Homo sapiens: one gene and its partners. The protein of the gene in region 1 purifies or fractionates together with the protein of each later gene. This does not show direct contact. Each region holds a gene or a part of one and is shown on either strand. Other genes may lie near its edges.

Region 1 (7,507 bases):
GCTGGGCAAGAGGGTCAGGACACTGGTAGGCCCTAGGTGGTGGGGTGGGGTAGGCGAGGTCAAGCCTGGGCTGGATGACCCTGTGAGAGAATTGTGCAGTGGAGAAGCCGCTAAGGAACTTACTCATTTGCCCATGAGAAACCATATATGGACACGGGGTTGGGGTGGGGGTGGTAGGGTATGTCTCCCAATCAGACCATCCGCCCCACCTCCACCAAGTCCTTTTCCTCCTAGCAGGCAGGGTCCTGGCTCAAGTTAACTCTTGAATGAGTAAGAGAGAAGATAAAATGAGATTTAAATTGAGTTTGAGAATAAAGGTCTAAAGGATGGAGGTTTAACAACAGAAAGTGATCCAAAAGTAATGCAATCTGCCCAAAATGTCATTAAGGGATGGAAAAGGGAGATTCAACACAGCATGGCTGAAGGCAGAGATTAGGGGAGAAAATCTTCATCATTATACCCCACAGAGTTGAATCGCCTCAATACACTGGCTCCACAAGTAAACAGAAAAATTGAAATACAGTGTGGTCGGGCTAGAGTCTTGCTTGGGTAAAGCTGCCCCAGGTTCTGAGAGAGCACAGGGGGATAGGTTGGTTGTTAGAGAGAGATTTCCAGAGGAGGGTTGCCTGAGATGGACCTTGAAGGGTGAGAAAGAGTTGGCCAGGTGAAAGGAGAGTGGCAGTGGGAAGGGAGCTCTCCAGGCAGAGGTGACAGCACGGGACATCTGGGGAGTGGGGCTGGAGCATGAAGGGGAAGGCAGGAAGGATGCTTAGAGATGTACACCAGGAGGCCCATGGCCTTGCAGCTCTGCAAGCTTAAGGGGTGAGGGCCCTGGAGAGCCACTTTAAACCTTGGAGCAACACAATTGGATTTGCATATTAGACAGAACACTCTGGATGCCAGATTCTGGCAGCGCTGTGGACACTGGACCTCTAGGCATGCTCCTCACCCATTCACCTGGCACTGTGAACCCACCTCCCTACAAAGGCCATTTCATCTCTGAGTTTCCAAAATCCTGGCTCCCTACTCTTTTGAATGTCCTTTGCCCCATTCCTATTGCAGAACCCTTCATTGTTCCCTTTTTGATTGGCCTCCGAATATTGCCACTTTCCCTTAAATCATCTTCTCGCTTTCCTCCTCCAGCACACTCTTCTCAGCTCAACAAGATTCTAGGCCTTCTCTGGGCCTGTGCCCACCAGCACATGCCTCCTCAGGATATGTATATACTAAAATATCTTCCCTTTATCTTATCTGGTCTTCGCCCCATGGGGCAACCCGAAGGCTAACATTTATTCCTTCACACATTAATTTAAGCTGCTTTAATTGCTGCTATGATATGTTTTATATAATATAATTAATGTTTTAATTCTGTGTACTTGCTTCCCCAGGCAGTTTTGTGAAAGGCCCAATTTTGGAATCAAGCAAATAAAGAATAAGTAATGGCTGAAATCATTATAGTAACACCCCTCTCTCAAAGGATTTAAAACCGTGCTTGTTTTTTTCAAAGTATGTTAAAAAGGGAAAAGATATTTTAATCTTCTCTCCATCCTGGGCATGTTTGGGTGGCTTTAATGAAGTTCCCTGGACCCTGATTTCAAGAGTTTCTGGCCTTTTGGTATCTGACCACCATTCTCAAGAGGCCACTGCAGCTTGAGGTCTGTGTTGAGATTACCAGCTTCGCACCCCCTGCCACCAACTCTTTGTCATGATTGGAGGCTGTACTTAGGATGAGAAGTTGCTGAACCCACTCATTCATTTATTCATTCATTCAGCACCCATATATTGGTGTCCTATTATGTACCTAGGACTGGGATAGATCCAGTCCTGCCCTCAGGGAGCTCACAGTCAAATGGGACCAGGCAGAAGGAGTTATGAGCTGGCATGCTAAATGCTGTGGCAACACAGGGGAGGAGGCAGGGTGGGATAGAGTACCTACCTCTGCCTCAGGGAGTTGGGGAAGGTGTAAGAGGAGGCAACATTTAAACTGTTTAAGAAAGGAGAAGGAAAGGAAGGAAACATCAAGAGCAATGAGATAAACCGTAAGGAAAAAAGATTGTGTGCCTGGGAAGTGGGGAGAGGCTGAAGCCAGTGTGCATGGGAGGACGTGGCAGGAAGTAAGCATAGAAAGAGAGGTTGGGGCTGAGTGAGGAAGGGTGTGCTTTGCCAGGATAAGAAATTTGGATCATCCTGAGGGTGCAGGGAAACCCAAAGAGGCTTTTATGCAGGAAAGTGTCCCAGTCGATCAGATCTGGAGTTTATCAAGAGAATCGCAGCAGTGTAAAGAGTTGCCTGGCACATAGTAGGTGCTCAATAAATCCTGTGGAATGAGAGAGGCTGTTGGGACAGTCCAGATGAAAGATGGCACCCTCTGAATTAGGGCAGTGGCAGAGGTGACAGAAAATAAGGGATGGATCCTAGAGGCAGAATCCACAAGACTTGCAAATGTGCCCTTAACAGCAGAAGCCATGAGAATGGGGTTAGAAGTGTCCTCCTCTTCCATCCTCCCTGATCTGTGAGGTCTGGCCTCTTGTCCTCTTCCAGAAATTGAGAGCTTGGAGGGTCATCACCTCAACCGTTGTCTAGTTCAAGCTCCTAAGTTTTCCTTGGAGAAAAATTTAGGCCTAAGGGAACACAGTCCTTCAGAGGCAGAGGCTGCACCAGAACCCAGGTGTTCCATGCTGCAAAGCAGAGTGTTAACACTGGTTCAAGAACATCTTGAGGGCCAGGTGCGGTGGCTCATGCCTGTAATCTCAGCACTTTGGGAGGCCAAGGCAGGCGGATCACCTGAGGTCAGGAGTTTGAGACCAGCCTGGCCAACGTGGAGAAACCCCGTCTCTACTAAAAATACAAAAATTAGCTGGGCGTGGTGGCGCCAGCCTGTAATCCCAGCTACTCGGGAGGCTGAGGCAGGAGAATTGCTTGAACCCAGGAGGCAGAGGTTGCAGTGAGCCGAGATCATGCCACTGCACTCCAGCCTGGGCAACAGAATGAGACTCTGTCAAAAAAAACCCAAAAACCAAAAACCAAACAAACACCCAAAAAACAAAACGAAACAAAAAACAAAAAAACAAAAGCACGTCTTCAGAGTTCATGAACCCAGGAAATGTAGGCACAAGTGTGTGTGTTTCTGCAAAATGAGAGGGTCCCGAGTTTCCTAACATACTTAAAGTGTTTTATGATGCCACAAAAGGCTGGCCCACTCTTTTTTTTTTTTTGAGATGGAGTTTTGCACTGTCGCCCAGGCTGAAGTGCAGTGATGTAATCATTGCAATCATGGCTCACTGCAACCTTGACTTCTTGAGCTCAAGCGATCCTCCTGCCTCAGCCTCCTGAGTAGCTGGGACTACAGGTGTTTGCCACCATGCCTGGCTAACTTAAAAATTTCTTTATTTTGTAGAGATGGGGGTCTTGCCATGTTGCCAGGCTGGTCTTGAACTCCTGGCCTCAAGCAATCTCCCTTTTTGGCCTTCCAAAGTGTTAGATTACAGGCGTAAGCCACCGCGCCTGGCCCCCACCTTTATTTTTATTTTTATTTATTATTTATTTTTTTTTTTTTTGAGACTGAGTCTTGCTCTGCCTTCGAGGCTGGAGTGCAGTGGCACGATCTCGGCTCATTGCAATCTCTGCCTCTGCGGTTCAAGCGATTCTCCTGCCTCAGCCTCCCGAGTAGCTGGGATTACAGGCGAACGCCACTACATCCGGTTAATTTTTGTATTTTTAGTAGAGACGGAGTTTCACTATGTTGGCCAGGTTGGTCTCGAACTCCTGACCTCAAGTGATCTGCCCGCCTCGGCCTCCTAAAGTGCTGGATTACAGGCGTGAGCCACCGCGCCCGGCCCCACTCTTAATAAATGCCTGTCTCCAGGTGCTGGGTGGGAGGTGGGATGGAATGGAATGAGGTGAGGACGCATGGATGCATGGATGAATGGATGGGAAGTTGAGACGACGCGCCCACACGAGGGAATTTCCTTTGAAAGAGAGCGAAATTCTGAGTTGGGAAACTCTTCCTTGAAACGCCTCCCCATACCCCAGCTGTGGCCTTCCCGTTTTCTGCGTGGTGGTGTGGGGGGAACTTCCTCAGGCCTCTCCGCAGTGGAGCCTCTTTCGGTTCTGCCAGGATACCTAGAGGCAGCGGAGAGCGGGGCAGGGAGGGGAAAACCGTGAGGGTCCCTGTGGCAGGCCCCAGCACCCATGGGATCTCTCTCCGGTCGCAGGAAGCAGGCTAGCTCCTAGCCCGCCTCGGCTTGGCCTTTGTGGGACCTGGGGGCAAAGAAGAAGAGCTGTCTCTGGGACCATGCCTCCTCCCGTACACAGCAAGATGCGTCCCTAAACTCCCGGGGGAATTAGACTTGTGGGAATGTTCTGGGGAAACTCCTGCGCGGTGAATTGCTGGGGGCTCCGCCCCCCCGATAGGTGGACCGCGATTGGTCTTTGAAGACCCCGCCCCTTTCCTGGGCGGGGCCAAGGCTGGGGCAGGGGAGTCAGCAGAGGCCTCGCTCGGGCGCCCAGTGGTCCTGCCGCCTGGTCTCACCTCGCTATGGTTCGTCTGCCTCTGCAGTGCGTCCTCTGGGGCTGCTTGCTGACCGCTGTGAGTTGTTTTTGCCCCGACCAGACGGGAGTTGGGAGTGGGGAATGAGAAGGAAAGGGAAGGAAGACTTCGGGGAAGAGGCCTTCCTGGCTGATTTTTGTGGGGGCAGGAGGGTGGGTGGGAGCTGGGCAAGGTGCCCCCGCTCCTGGCTGAATGGGGTGGGCTGCCTCTCTCTTCTCCCGGGCTGGGGTCCCGGGAGCGGCCTACAGGGGCCGCTCAGGGAAGGCACTGGCTGCCCAAGCGTGCCTAGACGGCCTGGACGGGTTTAGGGAGCCTCAGAGGCTGGCCACACAGAGACTGGTAGGGGGTTCAGAGGGCGGGAAGTGAGGCGGACCAAGGGAAGGGGCGGGTCTGGCCCGTTTCCTGTCCCCTTCTTATTGTGGACAGATGCCAGCCTCTGTAAGTAGTTATCATCTCCTTGCCAGCTGGGGCTGCCTTCTTCCAGGGCATCTTGTGGGAACAAGAGATGGGTGCAGAGGCCCAGGTACTTTTGTGAGAAGGCAAGGAGCTTTTAACATCGCCTTCCACCCCGAACCGTATCTTGGGTGTTCCAACCTAGGAGGAATCCCCAGGGCTTTGCCTTTTTCTCCTGAATTTAAGATGACATAGGAGACCCCTGGGGAGATGAACAGTTTATGGGACACAATAAAGGGTTAGGAGACCAGAGTTCTGGTTGGCTCTGACAGGGCTGGTGATCAGAGGGCTGGAGAAACCAGGGGTTTCTCCAGGCACCAGAGGGGCTCAGAGCCAACCAAGCATATCTCCGGGATTTTCAGAAGCCTACACTTGACTCACTTTTTGTTTAAATGTATTTTTGTAGTTCCTCATTCTGGAGGCTGGGAATCCCCCAAGTACCTGGCTCCTTCATCCCAGCCCCTCTGGCCTCCCCCTACTTTAGAGGGCTGTAGATTCCTGCCTGAAGCCTGGGCAGGAATGACCCATGGTATCAAGGAAAGCAAGGGAAGCAGCAAGGGAAGAGAGGGAGTGGGGAGGCTGCTTTGGTCCCACAGCTTTCACTTTCACCTGAAGCAATGGCTCTTAGGGAACAGGGAGGCAGGGGGAGGGCGGAGCTGGAAAGAGGTAAAGGGGGGCCCTTGTGGTAGGAGTGGAGAAAGAGCCAGAGGAGGTGGGGTGAAGGGTGTGATCCAGGCTTCTCAAGAGCAGAGTTTGCCCTCATAACTCCCAACTTTGGCTCCAGGTAGAGGCTGGGCTGTGACAACAATGTCAGAAGCTATCTATTGAGGGCTTCTTGTGTGTCAGGCTCTGAGCCAAACACTGCCTGTTTTCTTTGTCTGATTTCTCACAACTCCCCCATTATACAGATGGGCAAATTGAGGCTCAGAAAGGGGGATTGTCTTGCCAAAGGTCTCATAGCTAGCTAATGGAAGAACCTGGTTGTGAATCTACATCTGCATGATTCCCGAGCCTGCCTCTCAGATAGTGAGAGTCTCCAAGCTCTGGTCCTGAGCTGTTTTGTGGCAGAAGGACCAGAACTATGGGGAGTGAGAACTGGAGATTGACAGACTTTTAGGGGAGCGTTTTATTTCTCATGTGTTTGAAGATGGTATCAAGGACTTTCCTATCTTTGGGAGTGTGGGAGCTCCACGTTCACAGGATGGTGTCTTGCAATGAGCTGGTGGGGGGCAGTAGCCTTTTCTACTTCCTTTCCCATTTTGGGTAAGACACATTTCTGTAAGTAATTTGCTGAGATACCCAGGTTGAATGAGAGCCACCAGTTAGGTAGGATTCTGGACAGCCAGCCAGGTAGCCGGGCTGCTTGCCATATATCATGCAAGCAGAAACAAATGAATGATGATTAAAATTGCCATTTAATGAGCACCTACTATGTTCCTGACACTGTGCTAGGCCATATACATGTATTCTTTCTTATCTTCGTAATCCAACCTGCAGGGCAGGCATTATTACTCCCATTTTAGAGATAGAGAAACTGAGGCTAAGAGAAGCAAAATAACTAGTAAGTGTTACAAAGTCAGGACTGGAGTCTAAAGCTGTCTGACTCTCAAACTTGTGTTCTTTTCACTGGCTGTTCCCAAACTGTGGGACAGTTTTAAGGAGCACATGGACATAGAATTAAACATACACTTACTTTACAGTTCTTTTAAAAATCCTTCTCATTTTTTCAAAGAGGAAGTCTCTGGAGCTAGAATAGAGTTAATGCCTCTCAAAGGCTTGCTAATCCTTCTTTTAAAACAAAAATCAAGAGCAGGCCTGGGAGGGCCTTCAACAAGCAAACAACCAGCTGGGTTTTAATAACCTTGTTTTGTTTCCCCAGAATTTATTTTTAGGGTTACCTTTTATTTATGAGAAGTGATACTGGTTCTTGTCTCTTGGCAATGATGTGAGGTTTACATTTAAAGTAAATGTACCGGCCAGGCACGGTGGCTTGTGCCTGTAATCCCAGCACTTTGGGAGGCCAAGGCAGTCAGATCACTTGAGGTCAGGAGTTTTAGATCAGCCTGGCCAACATGGTGAAACCCTGTCTCTACTAAAAATACATAAATTAGCCGGGCATAGTGGTACACACCTGTAATCCCAGCTACTCAGGAGGCTGAGGCTGGAGAATTGCTTGAACCCAGGAGATAGAGGTTGCAGTGGGCTGAGATGATGCCACTGCACTCCAGCCTGGGCGATGGAGCGAGACTCTGTCTCAAAAAATAAAATAAAAGTATTGAAATTAACAATAAGTAATTAATAGCATGGGTGGTACCTGGATGTAGTAAAATGGTGAAGATGAAACACAAGTTGATGGAGAGAGGAGCATTGAGACCTGAGTTCTCATTTGGACTCTGTCACTGTGAGACTCTGGGCAAGTGACCCTCCTCTTTGGTGCTCAGTCTCAACTATCTGTAAAATGAAAGTGTGAGTTTACCCTTCCAGCTTTACATTCTAGCATTTTAT
Region 2 (7,025 bases), on another chromosome or scaffold:
TTATTCAGAATCTGGTTTCAGCTAGTCTGGGATCCACCTCTAAGAATACGTCTCCAATGAGAAACAGTTTTGCACATTCATTATCTCCCACCTTGGAACATAGTAGCTTGTTCAGTGGTTCTTACTCCAGCCTTTCTCCAAACCCTCTTAATTCTAGAGCAGTTGAAGACATCTCTTCATCGAGGACTAACCCCTACAGTTATGCAATGAGTACTGAAGAAGCCAGATTTCTTACCTACCATATGTGGCCATTAACTTTTTTGTCACCATCAGAATTGGCAAGAGCTGGTTTTTATTATATAGGACCTGGAGATAGGGTAGCCTGCTTTGCCTGTGGTGGGAAGCTCAGTAACTGGGAACCAAAGGATGATGCTATGTCAGAACACCGGAGGCATTTTCCCAACTGTCCATTTTTGGAAAATTCTCTAGAAACTCTGAGGTTTAGCATTTCAAATCTGAGCATGCAGACACATGCAGCTCGAATGAGAACATTTATGTACTGGCCATCTAGTGTTCCAGTTCAGCCTGAGCAGCTTGCAAGTGCTGGTTTTTATTATGTGGGTAAGAAGCAAATAACTATACATTTTATCATTTTATTTTAATTTACATATTAGAACATACGTGTTTTCAATATTTAGTCTTTTTTTTCCTGAAGGTCGCAATGATGATGTCAAATGCTTTTGTTGTGATGGTGGCTTGAGGTGTTGGGAATCTGGAGATGATCCATGGGTAGAACATGCCAAGTGGTTTCCAAGGTAATTGTTTTGAAAAAGGTATTTGTACAAAAAACTCTGTGCTTAAAAGAAGTAGGCATGCCTACATGATTTTGTTTACCTTTAAATTATAACAAAGCCTCTTTTATGCCATTGGGGAATTATCCTTCTAAAAGATCACATTTTAACTTTAATTATTTTGTTGAAAAATATTCTGCAGTCTTCTGTGTACTTTTGTAAGTCAGTTACAAGTATGACCGTACATTTTATTTATTTCCCATTTCTTTTAAAGAGTACTTAAGGATTACAAAGACATATAAAATAGATTAAAAAGACGTTAGAAAAAGGTAAGAACAGGAAAACAAGAAGGGACATAGAATGGATGCAGGAATAAGTCAAATGTAAAAGTCCATGTATTAAGAGCATATCTTAGATGGGCGTGGTGGCTCACACCTGTAATCCCAGCACTTTGGGAGGCCGAGATAGGTGGATCACCTGAGGTCAGGAGTTTGAGACCAGCCTGACCAACATGGTGAAACCCCGTATGTACTAAAAATACAAAAACTAGCTGGGCGTGGTGGCGCGTGGCCGTAGTCCCAGCTTCTCGGGAGGCTGAGACAGGAGAATCGCTTGAGCTCAGGAGGCGGAGGCTGCAGTGAGCCAGGATTGTGCCACTGAACTCCAGCCTGGGTAACAGAGCAAGACTCTGTCTCAAAAAAAAAAAAAAAAAAAAAAAGAAAAAAGCATATCTGACTGCCCATTTTAATTGTAATTGTAAATTATTTTTTCTGTACAATTTTTTTTTGTCATTTACCTCCTTTTAGCCACTTTGTCTCTAGCAGTGTCTTTTTTTATTATAGCCTAGAAATAATTTAGGGGCAGTGTTATTAGTAGAAATAGAATTAAATTGTCTTTGTAATTGAGTAGCTATGTGAACTTGGACGTTGTTTGTAAAATGAGGAGGGGTTGGCCTAGATAATTTTTTAAAATAGTGATAAAATAGGCATAACATTTACCATCTTAACCATTTTTTAAGTGTATAGTTGTGTGTCATTAAGTACATTCTTAACCGTTCTGCGATTATACCGCTATCCATCTCCAGAACCTTTGCATCTTCCCAAACTGAAACTGTCTACCCATCAAGTACTAATTCACCATTATCCCATTCCCCAACATCCTGGCAACCACCATTGTCTTTCTCTTTTTTTTTTTTTTTGTTTTGTTTTTTTTGAGACGGAGTCTCACTCTGTCACCCAGGCTGGAGAGCAGTGGCGCGATCTCGGCTCACTGTAAGCTCCACCTCCCGGGTTCACGCCATTCTCCTGCCTCAGCCTCCCGAGTAGCTGGGACTACAGGCGCCCGCTGCCACGCCCGGCTAATTTTTTGTACTTTTTAGTAGAGATGGGATTTCACCATGTTAGACAGGATGGTCTCGATCTCCTGACCTCGTGATCCACCCACCTCAGCCTCCCAAAGTGCTGGGATTACAGGCGTGAGCCACCGCGTCCAGCCCTTGTTTGTTTTTTTGAGGTGGAGTCTCACTCTGTCATCCAGGCTGGAGTGCAGTGACACGATCTTGGCTCACTGCAACCTCCACCTCCCAGGTTCAAGCGATTCTCCTGCCTCAGCCTCCTGAGTAGCTGGGATTATAGGTGCCTGCCACCATGCCTGGTTAATTTTTTTGTATTTTTAGTAGAGACAGGGTTTTTAGTAGAGACAGGGTTTCACCATGTTGGCCAGGCTGGTCTTGAACTCCTGAGCTCAAGTGATCTGCTCACCTTTGCCTCCGAAAGTGCTGGGATTACAGGCATGAGCCACTGCCCCCTGCCGCACCATTCTATTTCTGTCTCTATGAATTTGACTACTCTAGGCATCATATATAAGTGGAATCATACATCACAGATTATGTTTTTACCTGTGAGTGTCTTTCACAATAATGAAGAATCTCTTGAACCCCTTCAGGAAATTTAAAAAGTTTTCGTCATTTTGTATGATATATGATGAAAAAGAAACTTGAAGTAACAAATACTTTATTATGGATCAGTACATTGTTAAAAGTTGTATTTTAAAGTTATTAATATTAATAATATATCAAGATAAATTTTGACTTTTTTACACTGAAAAATGACTAAATTATTAATTATGTTTAAAATTAAAAAGCATGTTTTATCAGACTTTTAAATGACTTAATTATGTTGGGCTCTATGGGATTATATACATTAATTTGAAATTTAATCCATGTTGTGGTATCAAAGACAAAAACAGCTTCCAAATTCCAGTGTTGGAACTGCTACATTTTGTACCTTATAAAACAAAATCAAAATCTTTATTTTTGTAACTTGTGTTTTGTTTTAAATGATTAAGGGAGAAGATGTAGGGGCGTGTTTTGTAAATGCTTCTCTGAAAACAACACATTTCTTTTTTCCTTTTTTTTATTTTTTTGAGACAGTGTCTCATTCCATCACCTATCACTGCTGGAGTGCAGTGGCAAGATGGCAGTTCACTGCAACCTCCACCTCCTGGGTTCAAGCCTCAGCCCCCCGAGTAGCTGGAATTATAGGCACACGCCACCACACTCAGTAGTTTTTGTATTTTTAGTAGAGACGCAGTTTCGCTATGTTGGCCAGTCTAGTCTCAAACTTCTGACCTCAAGTGATCTGCCTGCCTTGGCCTCCCAAAGTGCTGGGCTTACAGGCATGAGCCACTGAGCCCAGCCCACATTTCAACTGGGAATAATCTTTAATCTCAGTAAATCCATCACCTTATGTAGTAACTTTCTTTTTTTTTTTTTTTTTTTTTTTTGGTGAGAACTCTTAAAAGATGCTCTTTCGCAAATTTCAGGTATAAGGTCCAGTATTATTAGCTATAGTCACCATGTGCTGTACATTAGATCCTCAGAAAGTTTGTGTTCTTTAACCAACATCTTCCCATTTCACCTACCCCCTTATCCCTGGCAACCAGCATTCTACTCTCTGTTTCTGTGAGTTTGGTTACCATACAGTATAGTTGTCCCTTGGTATGCTCGGAGGACTGGTTCTAGGACCCCCATGTATACCAAAATTCGCACATACTGAAGTCCAGAAGTTGACTCTGCAGAACCTGTGCATCCAAAATTCAGCCCTCCAAATATGTGGGTTTCACATCTGCAAATGTGATCTGCATTTGGTTGAGAAAAATCTGGGTGTAAATGGACATGTGCAGTTCAAACCTGTGTTGTTCAAGGGCCAGTTGTATTTGTCTTTCTCTGGCATATTTCACTTGGCATAATGCCTTCCAGGTTCATTCATGTTGCAGATGGTAGGATTTTATTTTATTTTATTTATTTTGAGATGGAGTCTCACTCTGTTGTCCAGGTTGGAGTGCAGTGGCACCATCTAGGCTCACTGCAATCTCCACCTCCTGGCTTCAAGCGATTCTCCTGCCTCAGCCTCTTGAGTAGCTGACATTATAGGCACCTGCCATCATGTCCGGCTAATTACTCTGTTTTTGTAGAGACGGGGTTTCACCATGTTGGCCAGGCTGGTCTCAGACTCCTGATCTCAAGTGATCCACCCGGAGTGGATGGGATTATAGGCGTGAACCACCACGCCCAGCCAGGCTCATCCCCCATTCATCCCTTAGTAGACACTTAAGTTGTTTCCATATAGCTGCTTGAACATGGGAGTAGAGATATCTCTGAGATACTGATTTCATTTCCTTCAGATATGTACACAGAAGTGGGATTGCTAGATCATATGCTAATTCTATTTTTAGTTTTTTGAGCAACCTCTATACTGTTTTCCATAATGACAGTAGTAAATTACCAACAATGGTCAAGGGTTCCCTTTTCTTCACATCTTTGCCAACTTTTGTTATTTCTTGTCTCCGATGATAATAAGGCATCATTACAGGTGGGAGGTGATATTTCATTTTGGTTTTAATTTGCATTTCCCTGATGATCAGTGACATTGAACACCTTTTCATGTACCTGTTGGCCATTTGTATATCTTTGGGAAAATTTCTGTTCAGGTCCTTTGCCCGTTTTCTAACCTGAATTATTTGGGTTTTTTTTTTTTTTTTTTTTTGCTATTGAGTTGTATAAGTTCCTTAAATATTTTAGATATTAACTCCTTATCAAATGTATAATTTGCAAATATTTTCTCCCATTCTGTAGGTTGCCTTTTTATTTTGTCGATTGTTTCCTTTGCTGAGCAGAAGCTTTTTAGCTTGTTGTAGTCGCAGTTTATTTTTGTTTTGGTTGCCTGTGCTTTTGGTGTCATACCCAAAACATTATTGCCAAGACCAGTGCCAAGGAGCTTTTTAGCCTACGTTTTCTTTAAGGAATTTTATGGTTTCTGGATTTATGTTTAGTCTTTAATCCATTTCTAGTTAATTTTTGTAGGTGGTATAAGATAGAGGTCTGGTTTTATTGTTTTACATAAAAACGGTGTTGGATATCCAGTTTTCCCAACACCGTTTGTTAAAGAGACTTATCATTTCAACATTGTGTGTTCTTTGTGCCCTTGTCAAAGATTAATTGATTGTATATGTGGCTTTATTTCTGGGCTCTCTGTTCTGTTGGTGTATGTCTTTGTTTTTATGCTAGTATCATATTGTTTTGATTACTGTAGCTTTGTAATATAGCTTGAAATTAGGAAGTATGATGCCTCCAGTTGTTTTTTTTGTTTGTTTTTTCTCAAGATTGCTTAGGCTATTCTGGGCCTTAAGTTCCGTACAAATTTTATGATTGGTTTTTCTATTTCTGTGATAAAAAAGTCATTGGAATTTTGGTAGGGATTATATTGAATCTGTAGAATGTTATGGGTAGTATGAACATTTTAACAATATTCTTATAATTTAAGAACACGAGATTGTTTAAAAATTTATTTCTGTCATTTTCAGTTTCCTTTATCAGTGTCATATGTTTTTCATTGTGTTTCTCTTTTACCTCCTTGGTTAAATTTATTCCTAAGTATTTTATTGTTTTGGTGCTGTTGTACATGGGATTACTTTCTTAAGTTCTCTTTCAGATAGTTCATTGTTAGTACTGACTTTTGTAAGTTGGTTTTGTATCCTACAACTTCTGGATGGTTTATTAGTTTTAACTGTTTTTGGTGGCATCTTTAGGGTTTTCTATATATATAAGATTATGTCATCTGCAAACAGAGAGTTTGACTTCTTCCAGTCTGATTTGGATGCCTTTTTCTTTTTCTTGCTTAATTGCTCTGGCTAACCCTTCCAGTATTATATTGAATAGACGTGGCAAGAGTAAGCACCCTTGTCTCGTTCCTCATGTTAGTGGAAAAGCTGAAAGCTTTTTTTTTTTTTTTTTTGAGATGGAATTTTGCTCTGTTGCCCAGGCTAGAATGCAGTGGCGCAATCTGAGCTCACTGCAACCTCCACCTCCTGGGTTCAAGTGATTCTCCTGCCCCAGCCTCCCGAGTAGCTGGGATTACAGGTGCGTGCCACTGCACCCAGCTCATTTTTGTAATTTCTTAGTAGAGATGGCGTTTCACCATGTTGGCCAGGCTGGTCTCCAACTCCTGACCTCGTGATCCACCTGCCTCAGCCTCCCAAATTGCTGGGATTAGAGGCGTGAGCCACTGCACCCGGCCAGCTTTCAGGTTTTCATTATCGAGTATGATGTTAACTGTGCACTTGCCATTTATGGTCCTTATGTTGAGGTATATTCCTTCTATAGCTAAATTGGTGAGAATTTTTATCCTGAAAGGGTGTTGAATTTTGTCAAATGCTTTTTCTGTGTCTGTTGAGATGTTTATATTATTATTATTATTATTAATTTTTTTTTTTTTTTTGAGATGGAGTGTTGCTCTGTCACCCAGGCTGGAGTGCAGTGATGCAATCTCAGTTCACTGCAACCTCTGCCTCCTGGGTTCAAGTGATTCTCCTGCCTCAGCCTCCCGAGTAGGTGGGACCACAGGTGCATGCCACCACACCCAGCTAATTTTTGTATTTTTAGTAGAGATGGGGTTTCACCAGGCTGGTCTCAAACTCCTGACCTCAGGTGATCCACCCATCTTGGCCTCCCAAACTGCTGGGATTACAGGCGTGAGCCACTGCACCTGGCTGGTTATATGATTTTTATCCTTCATTTTGTCAATGTGTGGTATCACATTTATTGATTTGCATATGTCATACCATCCTTGCATCTCAGGGATAAATCTCACTTGATATATGATTCTTCTAGTAGGCTGCTGAATTCGGTTTGCTAGTATTTGTTGAGGATTTTTGCATCTGTGCTCATCAGGGCTATTGGCATATAATTTTCTTTTCTTGTGTTGTCCTGGTCTGGCTTTGGTATCAGAGTAATGC
Region 3 (7,025 bases), on another chromosome or scaffold:
AATAAACAGGAAAGATCCGCAGAAAATACAATTCTTCCCGAAGAAGAAACTGTAGTTCAGAACACCTCTGCAGGAAAAGACCCCTTAAAAGTAGAGAATAGTCAAGTGACAGTGGCAGTACGCGTAAGACCTTTCACCAAGAGGTATGTGATGCCTTTTAAAATCTAAAGCCAAGCAGTTACATGTAAGGTACCTTTAATTCCTCTCTGCCTTTGGAAGGTCAGTGTATTCGTGCATCTTCAAACTTGTTGGCAATACTTTTATATAGAAAGAACTTTTAGGTCTAGTTGTAGTGTGTGTTGATAATTTTTGATCACTGACTATAAAATTAAAAAATTGAATCACCATATTTTGTATATTGAAGTTTCTCTAGATATATTGCTTTTAAAAAGTCTGAATAAGTCACTTAGGTCTCTAATGAAATCTGCTTTCAGATCTGCAATATATGCTGGAATGTTATACCTATCCCTTAAAAAGAGCCATAACAGGCCAGGTGTGGTGGGTCACGCCTGTAATCCCATTGCTTTGGGAGGTCAAGGCAGGCAGATCACTTGAGGCCAGGGGTTTGAGACCAGCCTGGCCAATATGGTGATACCCTGTCTCTACTAAAAATACAAAAATTAGCTGGGCATGGTGTTGCACACCTGTAATCCCAGCTACTCGGGAGGCTGAGGCAGGAGAATCACTTGAACCCGGGAGGCAGAGGCTGCATTGAGCTGACATCAGGCCACTGCACTCCAGCCTGGGCGACAGAACGAGACTGTCTCAAAAAAAAGAAGAGCCATAACAAATTACTGGTTCCCTAAAGAGGTCCTTTCAAAACCCTTTCCAGAGTGGTGATTATCATCATCATTGTCTCCGATTACTATATAGTAGTTATAAATGCAGTGATACATTAGATTTGATTTTGATGGCAAAAAATCTCTCTCTAAAAGTGGTTGTGGGTGGGGAAGACACAGATTAAAGATAAGGTTGGAAAAGATGGACATGACAAAATGTGAATGTGACAAAATGTAATTGTTTTAAAATATTTTAATGTAGTTGTTTAAAATATTTTAAGGGACAGTGAAAAACTTCACAGAGTTAGTAGTGTTTAACTTGAAGCTGTGTATCTAAGCAAGTTAGAAGAGGATTTGGTGACCACTGCATCAGGGCAGGAACCTCCAGTTTGAACCTAAGGGGTCAGTAGTTAAAGGCAAGTTATACAGTACTGTAGAATCTTTTTCGTGCAAATGGGTTAGTATTAAGAGGGAGAACTGAGGGTGAGTTGGTTTGAGAGAATTGGAATGTCTAATAGAGCCTCAAGAACCATGATAGGAAGAGAAACAATAGAAAGAGCTGGTAGGGACAAAATGCAAGATGGATGACTATACTGAACTTAGTAAGGGACCAAGTGCCTGATTCCAAACTCATCAGACAAGCCTTGAAAGCAGGGCCAGGGTAGAGTACTTGTCAAATTGATGAGGCAGGTGTTTTTTCCAGAATAAATTCTGATTTAAAGCAGTCTCAGAGTCAGGGATGGAGCGGGGAGGGAGTGTATATCTGGAGCCAGACAAAGAGTGATGATGTTTTTCTGTAGATCTAAAGTAAATGAAAGATTTCCACCTAAGTCTCAAAGGGAAAAAGGATATACAGAAAGATTCATGATTTTAAGGGAGAGAATCTAGAGGAAGGAGGAGAGATCTTTAGTAGCCAAGAGAGACTTATGATTGAAACTTACAGTCAACTGAGTTTGTTAAAATTAGATATTTGTATTTTATGCCAGCTTTATTTAGATTGGTACCCCCCCAAATTTGTATAATAAAGATGTAGATTTGGATGAAGAGTATAGGTAGATTATAGTAGGTGGGATGGGAAAAGGTATAGTTCAAGAGAAAAAAAAAAGAGGAAAAAATCTTGTAAAAGTAGGATAGGTTTTCTGGAGGAATCTGGGATTTTCCCTTTGGTGGCACTGGAGCCTCAGGAAATATATTTTGGAAACCCACTAGAATTATGTTTGCTTATCTGCATTTTCCACATAAAACTACAGAATTATCTTGCCTTGGAAGATTGTTTAAATAGTTTTGAGGTATTTATTATGTTCTGTGAGAATAATACCCTTGATCATTTTAGTTACTTGATTTTTTTCTTTGTGCTTCTTTCAAGAGAGAAGATTGAAAAAGCATCCCAGGTAGTCTTCATGAGTGGGAAAGAAATAACTGTGGAACACCCTGACACGAAACAAGTTTATAATTTTATTTATGATGTTTCATTCTGGTCTTTTGATGAATGTCATCCTCACTACGCTAGCCAGACAACTGTCTATGAGAAGCTAGCAGCACCACTCCTAGAAAGAGCCTTCGAAGGCTTCAATACCTGTCTTTTTGCTTATGGTCAGACTGGCTCTGGAAAATCATATACGTAAGTTGTATTGGAAATGCAATTATCCAGAAGTGTTTAAATATACTTTTGTGAGAAGTGGCATAGGGGTGATAGAAAGAATATAGTTTTGAAATCACACAGATCTTGGCCCAAATCTCATCCATTTTATATACCAGTTCTGCAAACTTGGGCAATTTACTTAGCCTCTGGGCTTCAGTTTATACATTTACCTTGATACAATTCATCTTGTAATTATCATTGGCCCCATTTTACTGTACTTTATATATTTTACATAAACTAAGGCCTAGAGAGGTTATCTTTTAAGTATTTTGGTGAGAATTAAAAGTAAGGCATCTAAGCTAGATGTGATGGCACACACCTGTAGTCTCAGCTACTTGGGAAGCTGAGGTAGGAGGATTGCTTAAGTGCAGGAGTTCGAGTCCAGCCTGGGCAACTTAGTCCCCATCTCTTAAGAAAAAAGGGTGGAGGGGCATCTGATAAATGGTAGCTATGATAATAATACCTGTCCTAGAAAGAAATACTCAGCATTTTAACAGTAGCTAACATTTGAGTTCTTTTTTTTTTTTTTTTTTTTTTTTTTTTGTAGCAAGGTTTGTTGTGAAGAGCGAAAGAACAGAGCTTCCACAGTCCACAGCGTGGAGGGGTCCCAAGCGGGTTGCCCAACATTTGAGTTCTTACTATATTCCAGACACTGTGCTAAAGACTTTGCTTATATTCTTTCACAACAATTCTCTGAATTAGATAGTTGTATTATTCCTGTTTTACAGTAGAGGAAATTGAAGTTTAGTGAGGTTAAATATCTTGGAGTCAAGATTTGGACTCAGGCAGATTTGACTCCAGAGTCCAGATTCTTAATTATGAGATTCAGTGAACTTGCTTCCTACTCCCTTCCCAGCCTATTTCCCCAAAAAGAATTTTAAAGAAAGAATTAGTTTTATTTCCCCCTTATTCATAATGTATTTTTCAGGATGATGGGATTTAGTGAAGAACCAGGAATAATTCCAAGATTTTGTGAAGATCTTTTTTCTCAAGTAGCCAGAAAACAAACCCAAGAGGTATGTTCTTATAATACCTGCAAGCTTCTTTTCAGAGTAGAAAATAGTCAAATCAAGTTCAAATCAGTCATGGCCACTAAGGAAATACTTAATGGAAGATCAGTTCTAATTTGTAGATCACTCTTCTTTGGAACAGTGGTATGGAGAGGGAGGGTGGAAATTCTAAATTCAGAATCAGTTTCACCTAGTGGGCAGTGATAGTGAAGTCATCTCTTCTGTCTTTTCTCCCTTGTTTTTGCTTTACTTTTGTGTATACGTAGAGGCTCACAAACATGGTAGCTATGTGCTGTTATACGTGTGTTTGTAGTCAGATAGGTGTACAGTTTAACTAAGGACAGCAGGCATAACCTTTTGGACAACGTGAATCAGAAAGAGTAGTGAAATTGGGATTTGAACCCAGAGTTGACTTCAAAAGCCATGCTTTTTCCACTCTACTACACCTGAATAGGCTGTACTGGCTTCCTATTTCACTTATTCATTTACACATTCAGCTACCTTTTACTGAGCATTCTGCTGTTGCCAGGCAGCTTGTTAGATCAGTTTTTTTTTTTCTCAAATTTTCTTGGTCATAAGAATCACCGGGGATTCTTGGCAGGGACATATATGTGCATGTGTATGTGTATGTACACACTTGCTAAAAATCTCTTCTGGGGGTTCTGAGTCAGTTGGTCTGGTGTAGAGCTTGGGATTTTATAATTTTCATGCTTTTCCTCCAGTATTTTTTATGATAAAGGAAATTGGGAAAATTGTGCTAGATTAGGGGTGTGGAGTTAAAAGACCCAGTCCCTGTATTCAAAGGAGTGTAGTGGGAGAAATAAGTTAACAGCCAAGTACAATCAATTAAATGCTAAACAAACTAAAGTAGATGCTCTAATAGAACATGTAAGTGAGGACATATAAAGTTGGAGGGAGACATTCTCTCAGAGGAAGGAGCAGCTGAGCTTATTTTTGAAGGATACATAGCATTATTAGCTTGGTAAAGAAGGGGAGAAGGATATTCCAGGGAGAGGGAGCAGCATGTACCAAGATTTGAAAGCAAAAAAGTAGGGAGCCTTTGGGAATCTATAAATTGTTCACTGTGTTTTGAGCATGGAATTTGAGGGTGGAAAGTGATAAGAGAAGAAACTAGAGGCTGGGTGCGGTGGCTCATGCCTGTAATCCCAGTACTTTGGGAGGCCGAAGCGGGCAGATCACCTGAGGTCAGGAGTTCGAGACCAGCCTGGCCAACATGGTGAAATCCTGTCTCTACTAAAAATACAAAAATTAGCCAGGTGTGGTGGCACATGCCTGTAATCCCATCTACTTGGGAGGCTGAGGCAGGAGAATCGCTTGAACCAGGGAGATGGAGGTTGCAGTGAGCCGAGATCGCGCCACTGCACTCCAGCCTGGGTGACAGAGCATGACTCCATCTCAAAAAAAAAAAAAAAAAAAAAAAAGAGAATAAACTAGAAAGGCCTGCAGAACTTGGCTCATGAAGGACTGTCTTAGTAAGGATAACTGGTAAGACTTGCTGATTATTGGAAATGGAGGATGAGGGAGAGAGAAATCAATGTTTCTGGTTGGACAACCAGATTAGATATCGATGTCATTTTTTGAGATCACAAGAGGAAAAGTAGATTTGAGTAATTGATGAGTTCTGTCTCTTCTGTGGATATACTGCCTCTCCTCTGTCTTCTTCTACCCTCAACCTCTCATTCCCAGTAATTAAATTGAAAATAGGAGGAGTATGGGGATCAATAGAAATATGGTGGTATTGAGACTATGAGATGAAATATGATTCAAGTCCAAGTTTAGTGGGCATAAGAGAAAGCTGTGGGCTTGTGGGGCAGAGTTCTCTATTGGCTCTCCAGATTTTAGAGGGATAGTAATTTGAAGGTAAAGCCAGGAAGACATAGATAAGTGTAGTGGAGGCAAAGGTCTTTGGAATGATTTCAAAGGACTAGGAGGCTCAGATTTTGCGTGGAATGACTATGTCATTGAATAACATAGTGTAATGAATGCTTAAGAGCCTGGTTGGCCAGGCATGGTGGCTCACGCCTGTAATCCCAGCACTTTGGGAGGCCAAGGCAGGCGGATCACCTGAGGTCAGGAGTTTGAGACCAGCCTGGCCAACATGGTGAATCCCTGTCTCTACTAAGAATACAAAAATTAGCCAGGTGTGGTGGTGGGCGCCTGTAATCCTAGCTATTCGGGAGGCTGAGGTAGGAGAATCGCTTGAACCCTGGAGGCGGACATTGCACTGAGCTGAGATCATGCCACTGTACTCCAGCCTGGGCGACAGAGCAAGACTCTGTCTCAAAAAAAAGAAAAAAAAAAAGAGCATGGACTTTGGAGATACATTATTTGAATTTGAATCTCAGCTTCATCACTGCAGTAGAAATGTGATCTTGAACAATTTACTTAATGTCTTTCTGTGTTTCAGAACAGAAAATAGAGATTATATTGACAATGTCTTTCTCATAGGTTTGTTGTGAGCATTAAATGAGTTGATCTATACAAAAGGTTTTGAAGAGTGCCTGGCACATAGTGAGCCCAACTAAATGTGGTTATATCAACTTTGGAATTAGCCAGGATGGTAGAGAATAATAGTATGTGGATGGGGGTAATAGAAGGTGGTATAGCGAGCATGATGGCAGGAGCCTCAGAGGAGAAGAAAAAAGTAGGACCTCTCCAGTGTGGCCCCAGCTACCTTTTCCAATTTGTTTCCCACACTACATTTTCATTTCTAAGTCCTCCTGGAGCCTCTATAACATAAAATACTATTTTACATAAAATAAGCATTATTACGTGTTTATTGAATTCTGACAGCCCCCATCCCTGTTCATAGCATTTGTCAATGACCTTATAATTACTTGGTGTTCCCTTATACCTGGTCTCTTTGGAAGTGTTTTGTTTCTCTCTCATGACACCAGCTATATTCTGCCTTGTATTACTCATGTACTGTATTGCATCTCCAATTAGCTTCTGAGTTTTTTCAGGATAAAAACTATGTCCAGTTCATCTCATATTTTCCCACAGCTCCTAGAAGAGTGCTTTGTACCTAGTAGGGCACAATAAATATTTGGTGAATTGAACTTAAATCTCTTTGACACTCCCTTGAAGCTTCCAATTCTGTTAGATGCTTGCTGACTCACTTCTGGGTCAGTGGATGAAATTTATTTCTCTAATAAGGAAACCATGCCCTAACTGTCAGAAGAGCTGTTTGGAAGCAAAGTTTCCCGTTTTTGGCCTCTACACTGTATCTTTCAGAGTCAAAAGGAGGAGAAGCTCAGCCCACTTAATCTAATGATTGCTTTCTCTCCCAATCAGGAAGAATTGTTGATTTAAGGTTCCATCTTACCAGATCAAATGTCAACCTACAGGGTGTCTTTCCTATTCTGAGCACATGTGATGCACAGATGCTGCTGTCCTTGCCCGAGAATGCCCTACCCCCTCTTTCTGGTTCAATCTACTCTGTCTCTCATGCCTCACATTCTATTTACTCCTTCCCTTTTCTCTGGCCATCCTAAATTTTCCCTTTTCTGATTAGTCATATTTATAGTCATCTCATTTTGATTCTTAATTAATTTTCTATTGCTGTGTTTTATC
Region 4 (7,025 bases), on another chromosome or scaffold:
CAGGGGCTATAAATGCTAAACTTCTGTCTTTGAGGCTGGAGGATTTGAGCTCTCAACAGATTCGGACTAAATACGTAGCTCTTATGAATGTATTCCTATACACATGTAGGCCGGGAAAGTTCTGATACTTACCTACCTAAAGAGAGCTCTGGCCATATATTTGACAGCAGGTTAGGAGTTAGAAGACCACTGATATACCATGATAATATTAGAAGGAAAGGACAATAAATAATTATATGTCTGTAATTGCAGTATTAATCATAGTGTTTTAATATCTGTATTTTATTCTATAGCTCAAAAGCATTTTCATATATAGTATTCTATTTGATCTTCACAATAACCCTGTGATGTAGGTAGTACCCTTATTTTACAGTTAAGAAAATAGAGGCCAAAAGACATTAAATGACCTATGTAATCTTTCTTGTTTTATTACCTGGACTTTAGCAATAGCTTCCTGATTAAAATCCTTGTTTTAGTCTCTTTCACCTCCCTTCTGTCCTCTACATTGCCACCCGTGTTACCTTTTTTTCCGGAAATACAGACTTAATTGTACTCATTTTCTTAAAAATTGTCAATGGCTATTCATTGTTTCAGTCATTTTATTTAAAACTTTATTGAGGTATAATTAACACCAAAAAACTGCATATTGTTTTGAAGTATCATTGACATTGATTTTTTTTTTTTTTTTGAGATGGAGTCTCTATCACCTAGGCTGGAGTACAGTGGTGCGATCTCAGCTCACTGCAATCTCCGCCTCGAGGGCTCAAGTGATTCTCCTGCCATAGCGTCCAGAGTAGCTGGGAGTACAGGTGTGAGCCACCAATCCCTGCGAATTTTTATATTTTTAGTGGAGACAGGGTTTTACCCTGTTGGCGAGGCTGGTCTTGAACTGCTGACCTCAAATGATCCATCCTCCTCGGCCTCCCAAAGTGCTGGGATTATAGGAGTGAGTCACCGCACCCAGCCAATAAACTTTGACGGATGTGTACGCAGATTAAGCTGTCACTGTAATCAGGATACAGCGCATACCCATCACCCCTGAAAGTTTCTTTATGGTCCTTGGTAGTCTCTTCCTCTTGCCTCTCCATTCCTCCATCCCCTCCAGGCAACCACTGATCTGCTTTCTGTCACTACAGATTAGTATGTATTCTAGAGTTTTATATGAATGTGCTCATATGCTTTTTTTGGTCTGGCTCTTTTATACAGCATAATTATTTTGAGATTCATCCATGTTGTGTATATCAGTGGCTTTTTTTTTTTTTTTTATTGCTGAATGGTATTCCATTATATGTATATACCACAATTTATTTTTTACCTGTTGATGAATGTTGGAGTTGTTTAAGGCTTATTACAGATAAAGCTGTTGTGAACTTTTGTATACAAGTGTGTATGGACATATACTTTGTTTTTCCTTGGGTGAATACCTAGAGTGGTGTGTTAGTCCATTCTCATACTGCTATAAGGAAATACCTGAGACTGGGTAATTTATGAAGGAAAGAGGTTTAATTGACTCTCAGTTCAGTATGGCTGGGGAGGCCTCAGGAGACTTACAATCATGGCAGAAGGGGAAGGGGAAGCAGGCACCTTATTCACACGGTGGCAGGAAGGAGAAGTGCGAGCAGGGGAAATGCCAGACGCTTATAAAACTATCAGATCTCATGAGACTCACTCATTATCATGAGAACAGCATGGGGGAAACCACCCCCGTGATTCACTTACCTCCACCTAGTCTTGCCCTTGATACGTGGGGATTATGGGGATTGCAATTCAAGGTCAGATTTAGGAGGGGACACAGAGCCAGACCATATATCAAGTGGCATGGCTGGATCATACGGTAGGTGTATGCTTAACTTTTTAAGAAACTTTCAATTTGTTTTCCTAAGCAGTTTTTTACCATTTTACATAACCACAAGCAGTGTATGAGACATAATTCCAGGTCCAATTTCTCCTCAACCTCACCAACACTTAGTATGGTCAGTCTTCTTAATTTTAGCCATGCTAATAAGTATGTAATGATAGCTCATTGTGATTATAATTTGGACTTCCTTAATTCCTAATGATGAGCATCTTTTCATGTGTTTATTTGTACTCTGTGTATCTTTTTTGGTGAAGTACCTGTTTGAATCTTCTGCCTGCTTTTTAATTGTGTTGTTTTCTTACATTTTCTTCTAAAAGTTTTATAATTTTAGGTTTTACATATAAGTCTGTGATCCATTTTGAGTTGATTTTTGTATAGTATATGGTGCAAGGATGGATGAAGTTTATTTTTTTGCTTATGGATATTTAATTGTTCAAGTTCATTTGTTGAAAAGACGATCCTTTCTCCACTAATTGCTTTTGTGTCTTTGTCAAAAATCAGTTGTCCACATACTTTATAGTTTGAAATCTTTTCTTTTTAAAGATAGACATCAAGCACTATAGAATTTTCCCTAAATATTTATGCTTTACCAGTATTCCACAATTTCTGATATGCTGTGTTTACAATTTTTTTTGAGACAGAGTCTCGCTCTGTATTTTTTGTAGAGATGGGGTTTTGCCATGTTGGCCAGGCTGGTCTTGAACTCCTGGCCTCAAGTGATCCCCCTGCCCCGGCCTCCCAAAGTGCTGGGATTACAGGCGTGAGCCACCATGCCCGCAGAAGTTCAGAATACTTTCTAATATTCTTTACTTTTTCTTTGGTTTATAGGTAAGTTTCAAATATTTGGGAATGTTTCAGTTATCTTTCTCTTGCTGTGGTTGGTGAACACTGAATCCTTTTAAATGTGTTGAGATTTGTTTTATAGCCCAGAATATGGTTTTAAGTAAACCTGAAATATTTACCATGTTGACTTAAAAAGCATGTGTGTTCTGCTGTTGCTGGGTGGAATATCTTATTCTCAATGTCAGATCAGGTTGGTTGAGAGTATTGTTCAGATCTACTTTCTATTCTACAATTATTGATAAATTATGGTTAAACAAATTTTTTTAAAAAGAAATAAAACCTGTGTTTTAAATGAACTCTTAGGGTGAAAGTCTCAGTTTTAAAATTGAGAAAACAGCGCTACTGTTTGAAGGAGGTTATTGGTGCAGGGCAAAGTCATGTTCTTTGGCCTCCTTTTGCTCCCTTACAAGAGGTGCCCTTGAGGCACCACTCAGAACTGAGCTCTCCACTGACAATTGAGGTCCCTGGCGCAAAGTCTGGTGAGTTTATATCTCAGTCTTGTCGCCTATCGTTCTGTAACCATGAATTCAGTGTGCGAGGACCAGAGACCTCCAGATACTTCCTGCACTTTCACGTGTCCATGGGCACTATTCATGCCGCTCTGCTTAGAATGGCTTCCAGCTGGCAAAATCCTTCTCATTGTTTATGGCCCGGCTTCAATGTCACCTCCTCTGTGATGCCACCCCAGACACTCCAGTCAGAATTAACCTGTCTTGTTTTGGTGTTCCCACAGAATTGCTTCACTCTGTTACATGTGTCCTCTGATGGATTTAAATTCCTTCTCATCAAAGCATAATGTCACCCCTTCTGAAATGCCTTCTTTTCAATGTCATGTCTAAAGTAGCCCGCTTTATCTTGGTTTCTAGCACATATCTTATTTTCTTTGTAGCATTTAGAAATTGTGTAGTTTAGTTGTTTTATATTTATTGTTTGTTCATTTCTTTAGAATGAAAATTCCATGGGACTGAGCCCTTATTTAGCTTGTTCACTGATGTATCCCCAGAACCTAAAACAGTGCCTATTAGGTTTTTCAGAAAATATTTGGGGAGTAATGAATGAATAGATGAATACCTGAGAGGTAGCATGTTGTGCTGGTTAAGAACATAGTCTCGCTGGGTACTTGCCTGTATTCCCAGCTATTTGGGAGGCTGAGGCAGGAGGATCACTTGAGCCCAGTAGTTGGAGGCTGCAGTGAGCTATGATAATGCCTGTGAATCTGTGAATAGCCACTGCTCCAGTATGGACAGGATAGCAAGACCCCCATCTCTTTTAAAAAACAAGACCATAGGCTCAAATCAGACTCATGGGTTCAAATCCTAGCTTTGCTCTGCTGAGACTGTATAATCTTGGGCAGGTTGCTACACTTTTTAAACTTCAGTTTGCTTATGAGTGTAATGGGGCTAACAATGATAACTAGTTGATAGAGTTGTTTTGAGAATTAAATGAGATAGCATGCAAGCCACTTCACTGTGCCTGGCATTTAATACTTGTTCAATGAATGTTAATTTTATTACTGTTGGTGTTGATATTGTTAGGCCACCCTTGTGCTACTCCAGGAATTACCATTAAATTTAAAAATTTCTGCATGTGGCAAAGAATTGCCCACAGGACAGCTTGATCACTTACAGTGAAGAGAATCTGCCATTATGACTTTCAGTTTAGAGTGTATCTTTGAAAATACTATTTTCTCTGACCATGGTCCTTTAGTAAGTAGAGTGTGTCTCTCTCAGTCAGTTGTCTGGCAGGTTACTGGTTTCACTTGCTGTGGAGAATAATTGCCTGTCTCTTTGAGATGTTCCAGGGCCCTTAATTTTCACATAAGCCATGCAGCTTATATTTTAAGTTAAGGCTTCTCAAATACACACCTCACATTTAGTGAAAATCTGAAGCAGTGGACAGCCAGAGACTTAATTTTATTTATATATTTTACATTGCAGGTCCCCAAGCAAACTGACTTAGCTTTTGTGTCTTACATTCCTAGGTGAGATTTGGCTCATTTGGGGCCACATGTCCACTCACATGTCACCTGTGTGTTACGCCCCTTTAGGCACTGTGGCAGACTCTGTAGGAAGAAGTTATGAGGCTGCCACAGTTACATTGTGATCAGAATTTTTATTCTATTGATGATTTTGAAAACACAAATTCTGGTTTTGGACAGGACCCAATAGCAGTTCTTGACTTCTTTCCCCTACCGTGTTTTAAGCTCTTGGAGGACAAGAAGGAATTTTGTTTTTGTTTGAGACAAAGTCTCACTCTGTCGCCCAGGCTAGAGTGCAGTGGCGAGATCTCAGCTCACTGCACCCTCTGCCTCACGGGTTCAAGCAATCCTTCCACCTCAGCCTCCTGAGTAGGTGGGACTACAGATGGTACACCACCATGCCCAGCTAATTTTTGTATTGTTTGTAGAGATGGCGTTTCACTATGTTTGCCTAGGCTGGTCTCGAACTCCTGGGCTCAAGTGATCCGCCTGTCCTGGCCTCCCAAAGTGTTAGGATTACAGGCGTGAGCCACCTCGCCCAGCCAAGTTTTACCTTTTTTTTTTTTTTCCTTTTTTTCTCGCTGTGTTGCCCAGGCTGGAGTACAGTGGCAAAGTCATGGCTCACTGCAACCTTGAGCTCCCCAGGCTCAAGTGATCCTCCCACCTCAACCTCCCAAGTAGCTGGGACTGCAGGCATGTGCCACCACACCTGGCTAATTTTCGTATTTTTTGTGGATATGGGTTTTCACTATGTTTGCCCAAGCTGGGCTCAAGTAATCCACCCACCTCGGCCTTCTAACCAGCCTCCCAAAGTGTTAGGATTACAGGTGTGAACCACTGCGCCCAGCGTGTTGCTTTTTTCCCTTGTCCCCCGCTTCTAGTTTAATACCTGATAGGTAATCACCAAATGTGTTTGAATGTGTTTAATGAGAATTCCTAGTGGGCAGAAAAATTATTAAGGTAAATAGATTCGGGCAGAAAAGAGTGGGATAATCCTCTGGAGTATTGTAGGTAGTTTAGATTTGTTTATGAAATTGTTCCATTGTCTGGGACTAGTTACCATAAAGACTCTCTAACATCACTTTTGTCTGTTGACACAGTTCCTAAGCCTGTGTTTTTTTTTTCTTGTGTCTAAAATTCTAATTTTATTTTATTTTTTTATTTTTTTTGGAGACAGAGTCTCGCTCTGTCACCCAGGCTGGAGTGCAGTGGCGTGATCTCAGCTCACTGCAACCTCTGCCTCCCGGGTTCTAGCGATTCGCCTGCCTCAGCCTCCTGAGTAGCTGGGACTACAGGTGCATGCCGCCATGCCCGGCTAATTTTTTTGTATTTTTAGTAGAGACAGGGTTTCACCGTGTTGCCCAGCTGGTCTTGAACTCCTGAGCTCAGGCAATCTGCCAGCCTTGGCCTCCCAATGTGCTAGGATTACAGGTGTCAGCCACTGCGCCTGGCGTAAAATTCTAATTTTAATATAGAATTTTATGGTTGCCTGAGCTTTAGGGTTTAGGGAGGAATATTCAACATCCAAGTTAATAATCATTTTTCTTTTCAGGACGTGGCTTTATTTCTCCAAGAATTTAATGCTCCTGATATATTCATGGGAGTACTGGCCAAGTCCAAGTGTCCTCGATTAAGAGTAAGTATGTACATTTCTAAAGCCTTCTTCTTTGAAGCAATAAGAACAGATAGTGCTGGATAGTCTTTTATTTTTCTCACTTTGATTTTCTTACTGACCATAAATCAACAAATCAGCCTGTAGATGTTAATTGAACATTGCCAGGTCCTAGGTAATTTGCTATTTAAATTTATTTTATTTTATTTTTGAGACAGGGTCTCACTATGTCTCCAGGGCTTGGAGTGCAGTGGCGTGATCACGGCTCACTGCAGTCTTGACCTCCTGGGCTCAAGGGACCCTCCCACCTCAGCCTCCCAAGTAACTGGGAGTATAGGTGTAAGCCACCACACCCAGCTAATTTTTATTTTTATTTTGTGGAGACAAAGGTCTCCTTATGTTGCCCAGGCTGGTCTTGAACTCCTGGCCTCAAGTGATCCTCCCACCTTGGCCTCCCAAAGTGCTGGGATTATAAGCGTGAGCTAAATGCCTGTAATAATTTAAAATATTAAATTATTAATAATTTAATAATTTAAAATTATGAAAATCATAGAATTTTAGATTCAGGCCGGACCAGGGAAATTAGCACTTTCATTTACCAGCTGTGGAGACGAGTTAGGCATAACCACTGTTATGCTGCTAGTATGTATCAGAACAAGGAACAGAGCCTGGGCCTCCCATTTTTCAGTTGATTTCTCTTTTTTACTGACAAAATCCACCATTGCTTGAAAACC

The links.
Region 2: the proteins of CD40 (region 1) and BIRC2 purify together in Homo sapiens (affinity purification with western blotting; 4 studies listed by BioGRID and IntAct, with this or other methods). This does not show direct contact.
Region 3: the proteins of CD40 (region 1) and KIF14 purify together in Homo sapiens (co-immunoprecipitation; 2 studies listed by BioGRID and IntAct, with this or other methods). This does not show direct contact.
Region 4: the proteins of CD40 (region 1) and SAAL1 purify together in Homo sapiens (co-immunoprecipitation; 2 studies listed by BioGRID and IntAct, with this or other methods). This does not show direct contact.

The regions. Positions count from the first base shown.
Region 1 is NC_000020.11:46,113,807-46,121,313, forward strand, and holds the start of CD40 (tumor necrosis factor receptor superfamily member 5 isoform 1 precursor), read left to right. Parts: upstream 1-4,507; 5' UTR 4,508-4,537; coding exon 4,538-4,588; intron 4,589-7,507.
Region 2 is NC_000011.10:102,350,189-102,357,213, forward strand, and holds part of BIRC2 (baculoviral IAP repeat-containing protein 2), read left to right. Parts: coding exon 1-561; intron 562-655; coding exon 656-755; intron 756-7,025. UniProt on the Homo sapiens protein: Multi-functional protein which regulates not only caspases and apoptosis, but also modulates inflammatory signaling and immunity, mitogenic kinase signaling, and cell proliferation, as well as cell invasion and metastasis.
Region 3 is NC_000001.11:200,610,730-200,617,754, reverse strand, and holds part of KIF14 (kinesin-like protein KIF14), read left to right. Parts: coding exon 1-143; intron 144-2,145; coding exon 2,146-2,400; intron 2,401-3,349; coding exon 3,350-3,437; intron 3,438-7,025. UniProt on the Homo sapiens protein: Microtubule motor protein that binds to microtubules with high affinity through each tubulin heterodimer and has an ATPase activity. Plays a role in many processes like cell division, cytokinesis and also in cell proliferation and apoptosis.
Region 4 is NC_000011.10:18,096,061-18,103,085, reverse strand, and holds part of SAAL1 (protein SAAL1), read left to right. Parts: intron 1-6,231; coding exon 6,232-6,315; intron 6,316-7,025. UniProt on the Homo sapiens protein: Plays a role in promoting the proliferation of synovial fibroblasts in response to pro-inflammatory stimuli.